2 separate regions of the Homo sapiens genome follow, and region 2 is linked to region 1. The links come from fine-mapping of genetic effects on gene expression. Tissue or cell type: CD8 T cells. Region 1 holds a variant in brackets; the other region holds the start of a gene. All regions are shown on one strand. Distances are from middle to middle.

What was found. PIP is the estimated chance that this variant, and not a neighbour inherited with it, causes the effect.
Region 2: ARMCX4 starts here. The variant in region 1 is fine-mapped to the expression of ARMCX4 in CD8 T cells (Kasela 2017, PIP 0.95).

Annotation. Positions count from the first base shown.
Region 1 is chrX:101,006,277-101,014,383 of GRCh38, reverse strand. It overlaps TRMT2B (tRNA methyltransferase 2B), which reads left to right. Exons shown (of 14, transcript NM_024917.6): 14 at 3,677-5,034. The coding sequence ends at 3,803. Among named protein-coding and RNA genes, the nearest start is that of ARL13A, 41 kb to the right of the region's middle. The variant AAAAG/G (reference allele first, on the strand shown) is at 4,839.
Region 2 is chrX:101,481,044-101,489,150 of GRCh38, reverse strand. It overlaps ARMCX4 (armadillo repeat containing X-linked 4), which reads right to left and starts at 3,695. Exons shown (of 6, transcript NM_001256155.3): 1 at 3,621-3,695; 2 at 3,059-3,128; 3 at 1,879-1,958; 4 at 1,460-1,543; 5 at 1,052-1,107; 6 at 1-707. The coding sequence starts at 561.

The DNA of each region.
Region 1 (8,107 bases):
CCTTAGTGATAGAGTAAGACCCCATCTCTAAAACAGTAAAAAAAAGAGAGAGAAAGAAAATTCAAATAATACAAAAGAATATAGGGTAAAAATGAGTTTCTTACTCCTGACCCCTAGTCTTTCAGATGTCACCACTCTGAGCAGTTTCTTGTGTGGACTACCAGAGATATTCTGTGACACTACAAGCATGAGTGCATGTGTGTGCACACGTACGTGTGTACATACTAGCTCTCCTTTTTTATCAAACAAGTAGAAGCATACTATAAGCACTATTCTATTTGATGCTTTTTTTTGCGGGGGATGGAGTCTTGCTCTGTTGCCCAGGCTGGAGTACAGTGGTGCAATCACAGTTCCCTGCAGCCTTGACCTCCTGGGCTCAAGCAATCCTTCCACCTCAGCCTCCTAAGTAGCTGGGACTATAGGCGTGAGTCACCACACCAGGCTAATTTTTAAAATTTTGTAGAGTCAGGGTCTTACTATGTTATTCCAGCTGGTCTTAAACTCTGGGGCTCAAGCTATCCTCCCACCTCAGCCTCCCAAAGTGTTGGGCTTATAGGCATGAGCCATTGTGCCTGGCCAGCTTTTTATTATGAATGGGATCTTTTCATGACATTTTCTTTTCTTTTTTTTTTTTTTTTTTTGAGACGGAGTCTCATCTTGCTGGAGTGCAGTGGCATGGTCTCGGCTCACTACAGCCTCCACCTCCCAGGTTCAAGCGATTCTCCTGCCTCAGCCTCCTGAGTAGCTGGTATTACAGGTATGCACCACCACGCCCAGCCAATTTTTGTATTTTTAGTACAGACAGGGTTTCACCATGTTGGCCAGGCTGGTCTTGAACTCCTGACCTCAGGTGATCCAACCGCCTTGGCCTCCCAAAGTATTAGGATTACAGGTGTGAGCCACCGCACCCAGCCTTCATGACATTTTCTCATTAGTTATTGCCAATCTGGTATACAGCTACCTTACTCTATTATTAGTTTTATTCATTTTTTAGTTGATTCTCACATTGTTGTGGTAGCTGACCATATGATCACCATGTAAAAATAATTCTGTCCCTCTCCTTCTAATACTCATTTTTTCCTTTTGCTTATTATATTGCATAAGAAAATGTTCCATTGTAGATGTGATAGTGAATATTTTTGTCATGTATTTGATTATAATGGGATAATGCTATTTAAACTACAGTCTTGTGTCGCATAATAACATTTCAGTCAACAATGGACTGAATATATGATGTTGGTGCCATAAGATTATAATGGAGCTGACCGGGCGCGGTGGCTCACGCCTGTAATCCCAGCACTTCGGGAGGCTGAGGTAGGCGGATCACTTGAGGTCAGGAGTTTGAGACCAGCCTGGCCAACGTGGTAAAAGCCCGTCTCTACTAAAATAGAAAAATTAGCTGGGTGTGGTGGTGGTGTGTGCCTGTAATCCCAGCTATTTGGGAGACTGAGGCAGGAAAATCGCTTGAATCCAGGAGGCGGAGGTTGCAGTGAGACAAGACTGTGCCACTGCACTCCAGCCTGGGTGATAGAGTGAGACTCCGTCTCAAAAAAAAAAAAATAATAAATTTCCAATTTCATCCATGTCCCTACAAAGGACATGAACTCATCATTTTTTATGGCTGCGTAGTATTCCATGGTGTATATGTGCCACATTTTCTTAATCCAGTCTATCATTGTTGGACATTTGGGTTGGTTCCAAGTCTTTGCTATTGTGAATAATGCCGCAATAAACATACGTGTGCATGTGTCTTTATAGCAGCATGATTTATCATCATTCTCAGTAAACTATCGCAAGAACAAAAAACCAAACACCGCATATTCTCACTCATAGGTGGGAACTGAACAATGAGAACACATGGACACAGGAAGGGGACCATCACACTCTGGGGACTGTTGTGGGTTGGGGGGAGGGGGGAGGGATAGCATTGGGAGATATACCTAATGCTAGATGATGAGTTAGTGGGGGCAGCGCACCAGCATGGCACATGTATACATATGTAACTAACCTGCACATTGTGCACATGTACCCTAAAACTTAAAGTATAATAATAATAAATGAAAAAAAAATTATAATGGAGCTGAAAAATTCCTATGGCCTAGTGACATCATAGCTGTTGTAACATTTCAGCACATGGGTTACTTACATGTTTGTGGTCATGCTGGTGTAAACAAACTTACTGTGCTGTCAGTAGGTTTGTTTACACCAGCATCACCACTTATAAAATTAAGTACATATAGTTATCTATAGTACATAATACTGGATAATAAAATGACTGTGTTACTGGTTTATATACTTTCTATACTATACTTGTATTATTTTAGCAGATACTCCTTCTACTTATGTTTTAAAAGTTAACTGTAAAACAGCCTCAGGCAGATCCTTCAGGAGGTATTCCAGAAGAAGGCATTGTTATCATAGGAGATGACAGCTCCATGTATGTTATTGCCCCTGAAGACCTTCTAGTGGGACAAGATTTGGAGGTGCAAAACAGTGATATTGATGATCCTGTCCCAGGCTAGAGTATAGTGGTGTGATCTCAGCTCACTGCAACCTTTATCTCCTGGGCTCAAGACATCCTCCCGCCTCAGCCTCCTGAGTAGCTGGCACTACAGGTGCGAGCCACCATGCCCGGCTAGTTTTTGTGTTTTTTGTAGAGACAGGGTTTTGTCATGTGGCCCCGGCTGGTCTCGAACTTCTGAGCTCAAGCAATCCTCTCACCTCAGCCTCCCAAAGTGCTGGGATTTCAGGCATGAGCCACCATGCCCGGACCTTATTTTATTTATTTTTTATTTTTTGGTAACGACAGAGTCTCGCTATGCTGCCCAGGTTGGTATTGAACTCCTGGTTTCAAGTGATTCTCTGGCCTCAGCCCCCAGAGTAGCTAGAAGTACAGGCATGTACTACCACACCCAACTAATTTTAAAATCAGTTAAAAATTAAAATTAGAATTTTGTAGAGATGGGGTCTCACTATGCTGTCCAGGTTGACCAGTTTTTCTACTATATTTTTACAGTACTTTTTAATGTTTAGATATATAAATACTTACCACTGTGTTACAGTTGTCTACAGTATTCAGTACAGTAACATGCTGTACAGATTTGTAGCTGAGGAGAAATAGGCTATAGCATAGAGCCTAGATGTGTAGTAGGCTCTGTCATCTAGATATTTGTAAGTATGCTCTATTATGTTCACACAGTGAAGAAATTGCCTAACAATGCAATTTTCAGAATGTACCCCCATCGTTAAGTGATGCATGACTGTATTGAATATTACCCAGGCAAACAAATACTCTTCTACTTTGCTGGTTGGGATATAAATTGGTACAACCCTTTTTAGAACAGTTTGGTGGTTATGTATCTTAAGGCCTTATAAACATACAGGCTCTTCAGCTCCATTTACCAAATATGTATTGAACCCTTATTCTGTGCCACATACTGGGAACCCAGAGATGAATATTAAGCAGTGTTTACTTCATTTCTACCCTTAAAAAGATTAAAATTCAGTAAGGAAGATGGTGAAGAAAAACGATTATATTAAATAAGATAAATGCTGTATAAGAGAAACACAGGGGGCCTGTGGGAACACAGTGGAAGGGCCTCTATTTTAGGCAATTGTATTCCTGTGGGTTCTTCCTTTTATTCCTGGGAACTGATGCTATGTTCTGTTTCTACAGGCTGTGCTGTCCTCCAGACCCTGCTAAGAAGCTCTTAGGCGAGCCCTTTGTCCTGCAGCAAGCTGTACCTGTGGATTTGTTCCCTCACACCCCACATTGTGAGCTGGTGCTCCTCTTTACTCGATAAGCAGCCTCCTAGAAGACAGCAGGCTATTTGTTAAGGCTGAAGTTTCAGAAACTTTCAGGTTTGGCATATTGCTACATTGCAGACCCTGGGAGCATTACAGTGGAAACCAATCTTTGGTTTGTGAATAGGAAGAATCTATTAGGCCTCTGGTCTGAGGCAGATTTTTTTTTTGAGATAGAGTCTCACTCTTGCCCAGGCTGGAGTGTCGTGGCGTGATCTCAGCTCACTGCAACCTCCGCCTCCCGGGTTCAAGTGATTCTCGTGCCTCAGCTTCCCCAGTAGCTAGGATTAAAGGTGCGTGCCACCATGCCCGGCTAATTTTTGTATTTTTGGTAGAGACAGGGTTTCACCATGTTGGCCAGGCTGGTCTCAAACTCCTGACCTCAAGTGATCCACCCGCCTCGGCCTCTCAAAGTGCTGGGATTATAGGCGTGAGCCACCACACCCCGCCGCGGCTGACTTAACCTTAGATTTCAGATTCCCTTTCAATCATGCCCGTTTGCTTGGGTTTGACCACTCCCCACTCCTGGATCTGGACTGTTTCTTCCTGTTGCTGTCAGCCTTGGTTCTAGTTTATAGTCTTGTCTCCTCCGTTTCTGCTTATGGTGTGGACAAATGACCTTTTTTAAGCAGCTGGTAATAATTTTACATTGACTGGAGCCTGTGCATTTGCTCAGAGATGCTACAATTTTTAGATATTTCTAAGACTTCTGGATTCTTGAGGTAGTTAAGGATTAAAACCAGAAACAGTCGAGGTTTTTTAAAAGCAGGGTAAGCCATGAAGTGAATACAGGGTGACTGAGTGATCATCAGATGAGATTAATTCTTTTGGGTTTTCTTGGTTTTAAGGCATCTCGAATGCCCCTTGAAAATGTAGTTTTCCCTGGTGGTGGGCACCTGTAATCCCAGCTACTCGGGAGGCTGAGGCAGGATAATTGCTTGAACCTGGGAGGTGGAGGTTGCAGTGAGCTGAAATTGTGCCACTGCACTCCAGCCTGGGTGACAGAGTGAGACACCATCTCAAAAAAAAAAAAA[AAAAG/G]AAAATGTAGTTATCCCTAGGAGCAATAGCACCAATTAACTCTCACCCGTGGAGGAAGAATTGGTTATTGGAGAGACCCTAAGGGAAAGGAGATTTTCAGAGAGACTGAATACCTATAATTGTGCTGTGTAGTGTGGAGGCAAAAAGCTCCAAAATCTAGTATAACATAATAAACTGGATATTGAAAACTGACTGTATTTAACATTCTCTAGTCCATGATTTCATCAACTCTGGAGTTGTTCTTGGGTACTTGCCCAACAATTTAGATTATGTTTTGATAATCTAAAGGCCTAAGGATGTGTAACTTAGTAAGTGTTGTCTGATTCACAAAGTGATATCAGGTTAACTGGTATTTTTAATTCTTCTCAATCAAACATTCTAGAGAAGCCTCCTTCTTAGAAAAATATGGCTGTTAAAGCTACTATATAATGTTTTCTATTCTTTTTTTAGATGGTGGGTCAGGTATAGCCACAAGAGGAGACACAGGAGAGGCTCAGGAAAACAAAGTCTATTATGCTTACAGGTCCTAGAGACAGGAGACATATTATGCCACATAGGACTACATGGGAAAGACACCAGGGTGGGCAGGAGGCAGAAGACAGAAGAGGGGAAGGTTTAGGCCACTGCCGTTACTTGAGTTTCTTTGGGAAAGGCAATGCAGGGCTGAGTGAACAGTTTAGGATTGGCTACTTTGAATAAGGTATAGGGGTGCTCCCTAGTTGTCTGGTACCTGGCCATGGGGTGATTAGGACACTGGAATGTTGTCTCTTGGGGTGTCCATGCCAGATAGAGGGAATATAGCTCTGAATTGGTTAGTTTGTATATCAAAGAAATCTTCCAGCTGAACCCTTGCTATCTATAAGAATTATCTAGCCCAAGGAGGAGCAGCCAGAAAGATTTATTTTATTTTTATTTTTTTGAGATGGATCCTCACTCTGTCACCCAGGATGGAGTACAGTGGCGTGATCTCAGCTCACTGCAACCTCTCCGCCTCCCGGTTCAAGCGATTCCCCTGCCTCAGCCTCCTGAGTAGCTGGGATTACAGGCGCCTGCCACCACACCCAGCTAATTTTTGTATTTTTAGTAGAGATGGGGTTTCACCATGTTGGCCAGACTGGTCTCGAACTCTTGACCTCAGGTGATCCACCTGCCTCGGCCTCCGAAAGTGTTGGTTTATGGTAGTTGCATAAATTTTTTCCTTTCCTTATTTTTAAATTTTATGTGATGGGTTATATTATTTTTATAATGAAATTTTCAAAAAAGCAATTTTTTTCCATTTATTCCCTGTATCAGCAAATGGCAATACCATCTATATCAATCACTTAAGCCAGAAAACAGAGTTCCTTTTCATTCCTGTATCCAACTACCTATAAGGTAACTTCCTCTTGGATATCTTCTAGATTCTTCAAACTCAATATATCTAATGTTGAATGCTTTCCATCTTTCCCTTAAACATGTTCTTCCTCCTCTATTCTCAGTCTTAATGAATATAACAGTTTACTCAGTCACCCAAGCCAGAGTCTGGGAATGATTTTTGAGTCCTTCTCCTGTACTATTGGCCTCATCCAATTTTTCACAAAGTCGCCATCCCTGCAGGCTTCCATCATCTCTCTCCAGGTTATTGCTGCAATAGTCATCTTCACAACTGTTGCTGCTTGTATTCACTCTTGCCCCAGTTCATTCTAGCACCATGGCACACACCTGAAATACCAGCTAGTGGGGAGGCTGAGGCTGGAGGATTGCTTGAACCCAGGAGTTCAAGACCAGCCTGGACAATATAGCAAGACCCTCTTAAGAAAAAATGCAAATCTCATGTTTCTCCATTACTTAAAATCTGTCATTGGCTTCCTGTTGCTTTTATTTTATTTTATTTAGTTAGTAATTTTGAGACACAGTCTCATTCTGTCACCCAGGCTGGAGTGCAGTGGTGCAATCTCAGCTCACTGCAACCTCTGCCTCCTGGGTTCAAGCAATTCTCGTGCCTCAGCCTCCCAAGTAGCTGGGATAACAGGCGTGTGCCATCATGCCTGGCTCATTTTTTTTCTTTTTGTATTTTTAGTAGAGGCAGGGTTTCATCTTGTTGACCAGGCTGGTCTCGAACCGCTGACCTCAAATGATCCACCCACCTTGGCCTCCCAAAGTGCTGGGATTACAGGCATGAGCCACTGCACCCAGCCAACTTCCTATTGCTTTTAAAATAAAGTCCAACATTATTGATGAAGCTCAAAAGCCACTTCATAATCTGAAGAACTCCATTTCTCTAGATATATTGGATTCCTTTCCCTGAAAAGGAGAAAGTTCTTCCCTTTTGGTCCTATTTACATTCTGTTTCCTCAGCTTGGAATATTCTTTTCCCTAACTCTTCTGGTTTACTCTATTTACCTTTCTGTTTTTAACTTAAATATTCCTCCTTCAAGGAATATTTAATGAATAAATACAGGATTGGCTATGGAAAATCAACTTCCTCATAATTTTGTTACTTGTTTATAGTTATGCCCTCAGAGATATTGCAGGTTTGGTTCCAGATTGCCACAACAAAGTGAATATCTCAATAAAGCAAGTAATGTGAATTTTATGGTTTCCCAGTGCATATAAACATTGCTTATACTATAGTCTATTAAGTGTGCAATATCATTATATCTAAAAAACCAGTGTATGTACCTTAATTAAAATGTACTTTATTGCTTTAAAAATGCTAAAAATCATCTGAGTCTTTAGTGAGTCATAATTTTTTTTTTTAAGACAGAGTCTTGCTTTGTTACCCAGGCTGTAGTGCAGTAGCGCCATCATGGCTCACTGCCACCTTGAACTCCGGGGCTCAAGGGATCCTCCTATCGCAGCCTCCCAAGTAGCTGGGACTACACGTGTTTGCTACCATGCCTGGCTATTTTTTAATTTTTTTGTAGTGATAAGATCTCACCATCTTGCTAAGGCTGGTCTCAAACTCCTGGACTCAAGCAATCCTCCCACCTTAGCCTCCCAAAGTGCTGAGATTACAGGCATGAGCCACTGCGCCCGGCCAACTCTTCATCTTTAGATCCCTCATCTGTCTGTATAAGGTATACAGATACATGTATACCTTATACATCTATCTTCTAAGCATAAGGACATTTTTCTACATAACCATTATATTATGAGTTCAACTAAGAAAATTAGCAGTACCTCACTAATCTTCACTAATGTCATCTAATGTAGTTCAGTGCTTCTTGAGGTGTGGTCTGGAGACTGCCTGATGTTTCACAAAAAGATAAGGAGTTTATACCAA
Region 2 (8,107 bases), 470 kb before region 1:
CTGGGTCATTGCTTCTCTCTTGGCCTCTGTCTTGGCAACCAGCGCCCAAGCTTTAGCCTTGGTCTGTGTCACTGCTTCTTTCTTAACTATTTTGCCAGCCTCAGCATCAGTTTGGGTCACTGCTTCTTTCATGGCCACTTCCCTGGCTTTGGCCTTGACCTCAGTCAGAGTCACTGCCTCTGTCATGACCAGTGTTCCAGCCACCACTTTGGACTCAGATTGAGTCTCTGGCTCTGCCCCAACCATTGCCTTGGCCTGAGAGTTGGCTCTGTGTATGGCTATAGCAGTGGCCTTGGTCTCTACTTCAGCCCTAGGCCCACTTCTTGCTCCAGTTTCTGCTCCAATCTCGACTTGGGGTTTAGTCTTAATCTCTGCTTCATTTATGGCCAAGGTCTGGCTCTGTACCCCAACCACAGTCTCCATCTTAACTGTGGATCCATTTCTGGCAAGAGTCCTCACACTCTGGGCTCTTCCCTTGGTAAATTTGTAAATGTAGTAGCAGGTGCCAGCCCAGATCACCAGTCCTGCAGTCACCCAGCCCACTTCCTGAATGCGGCCCATGTAATCACCCCTGCTAAAAGCACGAACAAGGTATGGTAGAGCGCACTCGGGCTGGGGTAAAGAGAGTGGTAGTTGTGGGTGTAGGCCTGTGAGGGTGCTGGTCTTCAGCCACTCAAAGGCCACTACAGCTGCCTCTGGAGGTGGACCTAGAAGTGGAGGAAGGAAATGGACTAAAATTTCTCTTCTGATTTTGTTGCATCATACAGATAGATACACAGAGGAACAGAAAATGGTAGAACCATGTGCTTGGTGGAAGAGAGGATGATTAGCAGCCTCTCCATTCCTCTTATTTCATCTTCTCTCCACCTTCCCCAATGCCCAATAATTTTCTTCCAAGATACTTCTATACACATTTCTATACACCAAATGAACAGTGGAAAGGATGGTAGGAGGTCTGACGATAAATGGGAGCAACCAAGAAGTCCCAGACTTTGATTTCTACTGGACCTACTCTGGTCACCTGTCTACAGGGCCCCACCCTCATACCAACCTGTAATGATCCGAGGCAGTTCCCTCCTCTCCTCTTGCTTCTCTTGGCAGTACACCCTAAAGTAGATACATAAATTCATGAGATCTCTGGACCTAGAGACAGACAGACAGATGGAGGGACAGATGGGAGTAGAGAGTTTGTTCTTGATGGGACAGACATATTATTAGCAAACTACCTTTCTACGTTTCTCAGTCCACCCCACTCCCTAAGACACTGTCACACTCTTTTCCCTGTACCAGAATTAAGGTGAGGGTATGGAGTAAATGACAGGGATGGTGGGAAAGGTGGCTGGAAAAGGAGAGACTGAGGATCCTCATCCTCCAGACTGGTCACTGGTCCTTACTGGATGCACACTGGTCTCCACCAACCCACTCTAGAGGTCTACCCAGGCAGTCCCCACACTCTTACCAGTCTATACTGATCAGGAGCAATCTCCTCTTTGTTTCTTTGCTTCCAGTGATCTTAAGCCCTGCAGCAGACATGCAGGCAGATCTATGGACAAGTAAACAAACAGTAGGTAATGGAAACCGAGTCCCTGGTAGAACAGACAAGCAACCTGATCCCTGACCCCAATGTCTGCCTCGCCAGAGCCCAGGTTCTATATACTAATGTGTACCATCTCATGGTCCCCCCATCAAGTCTTCCCCCAGTCATACTCCAGCCCACCCTTACCCCCATATTCCTATCATTTCCTGCACTGAAATCCACAGGAGGCATGGCAGCACTGTGGCAATCCAGCACTCCACTGAGACCCTCTTAAATCTCACCCACCTCCTATGCCCACCCTCTCTTGTCATCCCCAGAGACTACCCCCACTTCACACCAACCTCCATGCTTCTAGATTGATCTCCTCCTCTTTCCCTTGCTTCCAATGGTAAACAGCCCTACTGCAGGCCTATGGGAAGACCTTGGAACAGATGGAGAAAAAGAAGAGAGTGGATGTTAAGTACTTGTGACACTTACCATCTAAGACATAGGTCCCTGTACCTGCCTGCCTGGATTTAGAGACCCATTTGCTGGCAGAAAAAAAAAAAAAAAAAAGCCTGGGGCTTCCCCAGCACTGAAATGGGAAGGATGGAAAAGGGAGGCAGGAAAAGTAAAAGGCAACAGACAGAGGCACGTTATTTTATTTTATTTTATTTTATTTTATTTATTTTATTTTTTATTTATTTTGAGACAGAGCCCCACTCTGTCACCCAGGCTGGATTGCAGTGGCAAGATCATGGCTCACCACAGTCTCGACCTCCCAGGCTCAAAAGATCCTCCCACCTCAGCCTCCCAAGTAGCAGGAACTACAGACTGTGCCACCATACCCAGCTAATTTTTAAATTATATGTAGAGATGAAGTCTCGCTATGTTGCCCAGGCTGGTCTTGAACACCTGAGCTCAAGCAATCCTCTTGCTTGGGTCTCTCAAAGTGCTGGGATTACAGGCAAGAGCTACTAGGCCCAACAAGGCAAATTATTTTAAAACCACCTGTAGGGTTCTAGGGATTTCCCCAAAAGCCCACCATTTCCTTCACCAAGATGGTCAGGTAGGTAGAGGGATCTGGAAAACTGAAGGATGGCAGGAGAGATGGGAGACCCCAGATCCCATACTCTAGAACCACAACCTACTGCTGTCCACGTCCCTTTCAACCTATCTCTAGGAGTCTCCAGCAGAAGAGAAAAGCTATAGGGGAAGCCTTTTGCTTCTACAAAATCACTATCCTTCCCCACCAAAGGCTATCTAAAAAATAATAATAATAATAATATTCTTTAATATAATTTATCTTTTTCTCAATATTATCTGAAATGCAAATAAAAGCATCTGTAGAAAAGTTTGCTGTCTTCATTGGTCTTCAACATACAATTTAAAAGTCCTAAGCTTGGTAAGTAAAATGCAGTTTAGGGAAAGTCCCCAAGCTAGCCCCACCCCACATCCCATTCAGACAGCCGCACCTAAGTTCCTGTCATAGAATTCATATGGAACTCCAATGGTTTAGATAGTGTCTGTACTCACACTAACCTCCTTGATCCAGTGCAGTTTTCTCCTCTCCTTCCTTTCTCCTCGCCGCAAACAGTGCTACACCGAACTACTGTCCGACAGACAGGAGAGAGTAAAACCACTTAGTGTTGGTCTAGAGCCCAGGACATAGATCCCAATACTCGCCTTTCCGGGTTCAGGAACCTGGTTATCAAACGTCCCTCCCCACAGTCTGAGACACCACCCTTACCAACCCCACCGTCCAGTCTCTAAGGCCCACCATTTTCTCTGCAAACGCCACCGTGGCGCATCCCTTCCACTAAATTGAGCAGGAAGCGAGCGGACATGTGTGGCCAGTGATTAGAGCGATGGGCATCTCAATCTCTGTATTTCCCTCTGGCAGAGACAATCTCCCCACAAATCAAAGCCCACGGTTCGCCTGCACAGATGTAGGCGGGGGCAAGGGGGCTAGGGAGAATCAGAGGCAAAGGCTCCTCGAACTTGAGGCAGCATAGACCACCGCCCCCTCAAGCCCCGTAACCGCTGCCGGGGTCAGTGAGCTTCTGCCGGCCTGGCCAGGGCGCGCGGGCCCCAGGGCCCTTACCTGCTCCGCTTTCCCCGGGCCCGATGCCAGCCCGCCGAGCGCAGGGCAGCGGGGAGCTGGTAGCCAGATGCGAGTGACGACTGCAACGAAGGCTGCGTAGCTCTGCAGCTCCGGGTCACGTGAGGACCGCGCGTCACCGCCGAGCTCGCCCTCCTCCCCAGCACCCCCTACCACCCACCAAGGGCCGGCGGCCAGTCACCAGGAACTCCCCCCTCCTCCACTCCGCACGCACAGACATCCCCGTTCTCTGGTCTGTGCTCGGTGCCCCAGTGCGCACGCGTTGTCACTCATCTCCGTCCTCTCCAATCTGAGGGCCCACAAGTGGCATCATCGCCTTGTGGTTGGAGTTTACCCATCTTCAGTTACAGGGGAGGGTCTGCATCCCCCTACCCACTCCCGGCCCTTGGCTGTGGCCTTTTATGTTTCTTCTTTGAGTAATCACTTATTTCTCTCTTAGACTATAAGACCAGCACTCCCCACCCGCCCCCTACACGACCTGCCCTCTCTAAGTACAATGCCTGCACCAAATGGGCTGTGGAAGGGGGTATCAGGAAGGAAAGCAGAAGGTGCAAGTAGAGCTTTAATTTTCTTTTTCGTGTTCCTTTTTTTTCTTTTAATATGACATTCTTTTCTAATATTGTAATCAGAAAATACAGTATAGCCATTTTCATTTGACACAAAAAATATTCAGGGTGTAAAAATAACAAAAGACTCATTCTTTTGTTTACATTATTTTGTGCCACATTTTAAAATGTCTTCTGTTACTGCAAACTATTTTACAGCTTTCAAAATTGACTAGTAATTCTTGACATTTTAAATACAAAATTGTCCTAAACAAAACCAGCACGTATTCAATATGATCTATAAGTTAATCTTTGGAAAGACATTTCGTTTTCTAATATTGACAATTTTACACAGGTGATTTGTAACTTTTGAAGTTCTGGCTGAACTCAGCATCTTTTTTCAGGTGTCTAAGACCTTCTTCAGAGAAGACTTCTAGAGGATATATTTAAGACCCAACTCCTGATGAGCCTAGTGCTTTACTAGTGACTTACCAAATTAACCTGCTTTACTAGTGACTTCCCAAATTAACCTGTTTTCCATTCAAGGGGCTTTATTTGGATTTTACATAAGCATGTAATCAGATCAGCCTCACCACACCCATGGAACAACCAACTGCTAGAGCTTGGATGGAAAGGAGACTTAACAGGTGGAATTTTCATCCGTCGTAACACTTGAGATCTCGCCGGTGTCTGCCATTCATGTACTACATACTACCCTAGCAGTGGCGAGTGTTCAATATTTTCCAGTGGAGATGGTGGTGAGGGTCTGTGGATGACTGTGAATCACTGCAACACACCTGATGTCCGTGTCATTATTTTTTTCCCTCACAAGTGGAAGGGCAATGTACAGGATCCCAAGCAATTGCCAAGAAAAAGAAGTTTTTTCATGTCCTGCCTTGTGTTACAACTTCACTGCACCTCCCATACAAGCCCCTCAGAATAATCCCAAAACTCAGGGACCAAATATGCAGAAGTTAGTCCCCACGCATCCACCTGTCCCCGCTGAGGAGTCATACTCCAAATATAGACCCTCCAGGCAGCCTCTTTCTTAGAACATTGAAATAGGACACCCCAGAGGGAGGGGCTCCACTGTGAGGGGCCCCTGTGTGGAGGAGGCCCTTTCAGGAGCCAAGAAAGGAAGTCCTAGTGCCTTACAATCTTACTAATGGCTTTTCAGAACTCAATTGAAAGTGACGAACTTACTTTCTCCACCAAAGGAAAATATTGATAAATTAATTGCATACAAATTTTAAACTTTGGTAAAGTAAAAAAAAAAAACCATAAACATTGACTGTCAAAAGGCTAACTTGTAATAATCTAAAAGCTCTTACAGATCATTAGTAAAATGATAAACAACCCAATAGAAAAATGTGCCAAAAGACATGAACAGATTTGTTCACAGAAAAGAAATAGATTACTAATAAACATATGAAAAGATGCTCAAACAAAGAAATGCAAATCAAAGCAACTATGCCTTACCATGTTTCAAGTATGATTTTCTCAAAGTTTAGAAACTTGATAATATTGTTGACTGGTTTGTCAAGAAATGGGCACTCCTCTACTCTGTTGGAGGCAGATATTGATGCAAGCTTTTTATATAGGGCAATTTGGCAAACTCTATTAAATGATAACTATAATATTTCACAAATTCTTTGACCCAATAATTCTATTCCTTGGAATTTAGCCAACCTATATGCCTACACAGTTTCACAAAGATATATTTACTAGAATTTTTTTTTTTCGCAATGCTTGTAAGGTTTGAAAAAACTGACGCAGCCGGGCACGGTGGCTCACACCTGTAATCCCAGCACTTTGGGAGGCCGAAGCAGGTGGATCACGAGGTCAGGAGTTCAAGACCAGCCTGGCCAACGTGGTGAAACCCCGTTTCTATTAAAAATACAAAAATTAGCCGGGCGCAGTGGCAGGCGCTTATAACCCCAGCTACTTGCAAGGCTGAGTCAGGAGAATGGCTTGAACCCAAGGGATGGAGGTTGCAGTGAGCCTAGATCACGCCACTGCACTCCAGTCTGGCTGACAGAGTGAGACTCTGTCAAAAAAAAAAAAAAAAAAAAAAAAAGCCTGACGCAACATAAAATGGCTATTGATAGGGGAGAGATTAAATAACTCATGTTATATTTATACAATGTGGCTGATGGAGTTAGCTCTGTGTATCCCAGTGGAAAGATAATTGGGGTGTTTTAATATTTGCTGTTTACTTTACATACAAATCCCACAAGAGTACAATTCTAGTATAAAATTCAAACCCAAGGCCAAGTGTGATGGCTCACGCCTATAATCCCAATACTTTGGGAGTCTGAGGCAAGAGCATTACTTGAGGCCAAGAGTTTGAGACCACCCTACATAGGTTTCCCGACATAGGGAAACCTGTCTATTAAAAAAAAAAAATAGCTGGGCTTAGTGGTGCATGCCTGTGGTCCTAGCTACTTGGGAGGCTACTTGGCAAGAAGATTGTTTGAGCTTAGGAATTCAAGGTTACAGTGAACTATGATTGCACCACTGCTCTCCAGACCGGCAATGGCGTGAAACCCTGTCTCTGAAAAGAAAAGAAAAGAAAAGAATAGTCAAACCCAGAAAAAGCACTAGTACCACTTTCACTCCCCTATCCTCACCCAAATCACAGTTACCTCTCCATTTTAAGTTTGGTGTATTAACCTTTTGTATACATGATATACACATACATGTCTTATTAAAATATATAAATGAGATTTTTTTTTATATGGAGTCTTGCTCTTTCACTCAGGCTGGAGTGCAGTGGTGCGATCTTGGCTCACCGCAACCTCCACCTCTCGGGTTCAAGCGATTCTCATGCCTCAGCCTCCCTAGTAGCTGGGATTACAGGTGCGCACCACCATGCCCAGCTAATGTTTGTATTTTTAGTAGAGACTGGGTTTCACCATGTTGGCTAGGCTGGTCTCAAACTCCTGGCCTCAAGTGATCCAACCACCTGGGCCTCTCAAAGTGCTGGGATTACAGGTGTGAGCCACCACGCCTGGCCAGGATCATAATTAACATACTGTTTTGCAACTTGCTTTTTTTTCATTTAAAATTATGTCTCAAAGAGCTCTACATACCAGTACATTTAAAGCTGCTTCATTCTTTTTAACTGCTGCATATTATGAGTTCTGGATCCGGAGCTAATAAAGCAAGGTTACAATGAACAGTCTGGCACATAAAGCTTTGCCAACAGGTAGAAGAATTTCTTTAGGATATTCTACTATAAATATAATTATTTGCTTAAATGTATGAGATTTTATACATTTGATATTGCCAAAAGAAGGATGTGAGATTTTATATAGTTAATGGATATACCACCAAACTGTCCTCCAAAAAGGCTTGGCCAATTTATACCCCCATCAAACATAAGACAGGATCTATTTCCCCACACTCTCATGCACACTGTGTACAAATGTTTCTCAACTTATAATGGGGTCATGTTCAAATAAACTTATAGGTTGAAAATACCATAAATCTAAAATGCATTTAATACATCCAACCTACCAAACATCATAGCCTAGCCTACCTTAAAAATGCTCGGAACACTCACATTAGCTGACAGTTCGGCAAAATCATCTAATGCAAAGCCTATTTTATAATAAAGTGTTGAATATCTCACATAATTTATTGAATACTACATTGAAAGAAAAACAGGATGGTTGTATGAGTACTTGAAGTACAGATTTTACTGAATGTGTATTGCTTTTGCACCACCAATTAAAGTAAAAAAATCATAGGTTGAATTGTCATAAATTGGGGACCGTCTGTATTAGTAATTATTGCCAATATAAGAGTCAACAAAAGATTGTCCTTTTTTTTGTTTTGTTTTGAGATAGGTTCTCACTCTGTTGCCCAGGCTGGAGTGCAGTGATGTAATCACAGCTCACTGCAGCCTCGACCTTCCTGAGC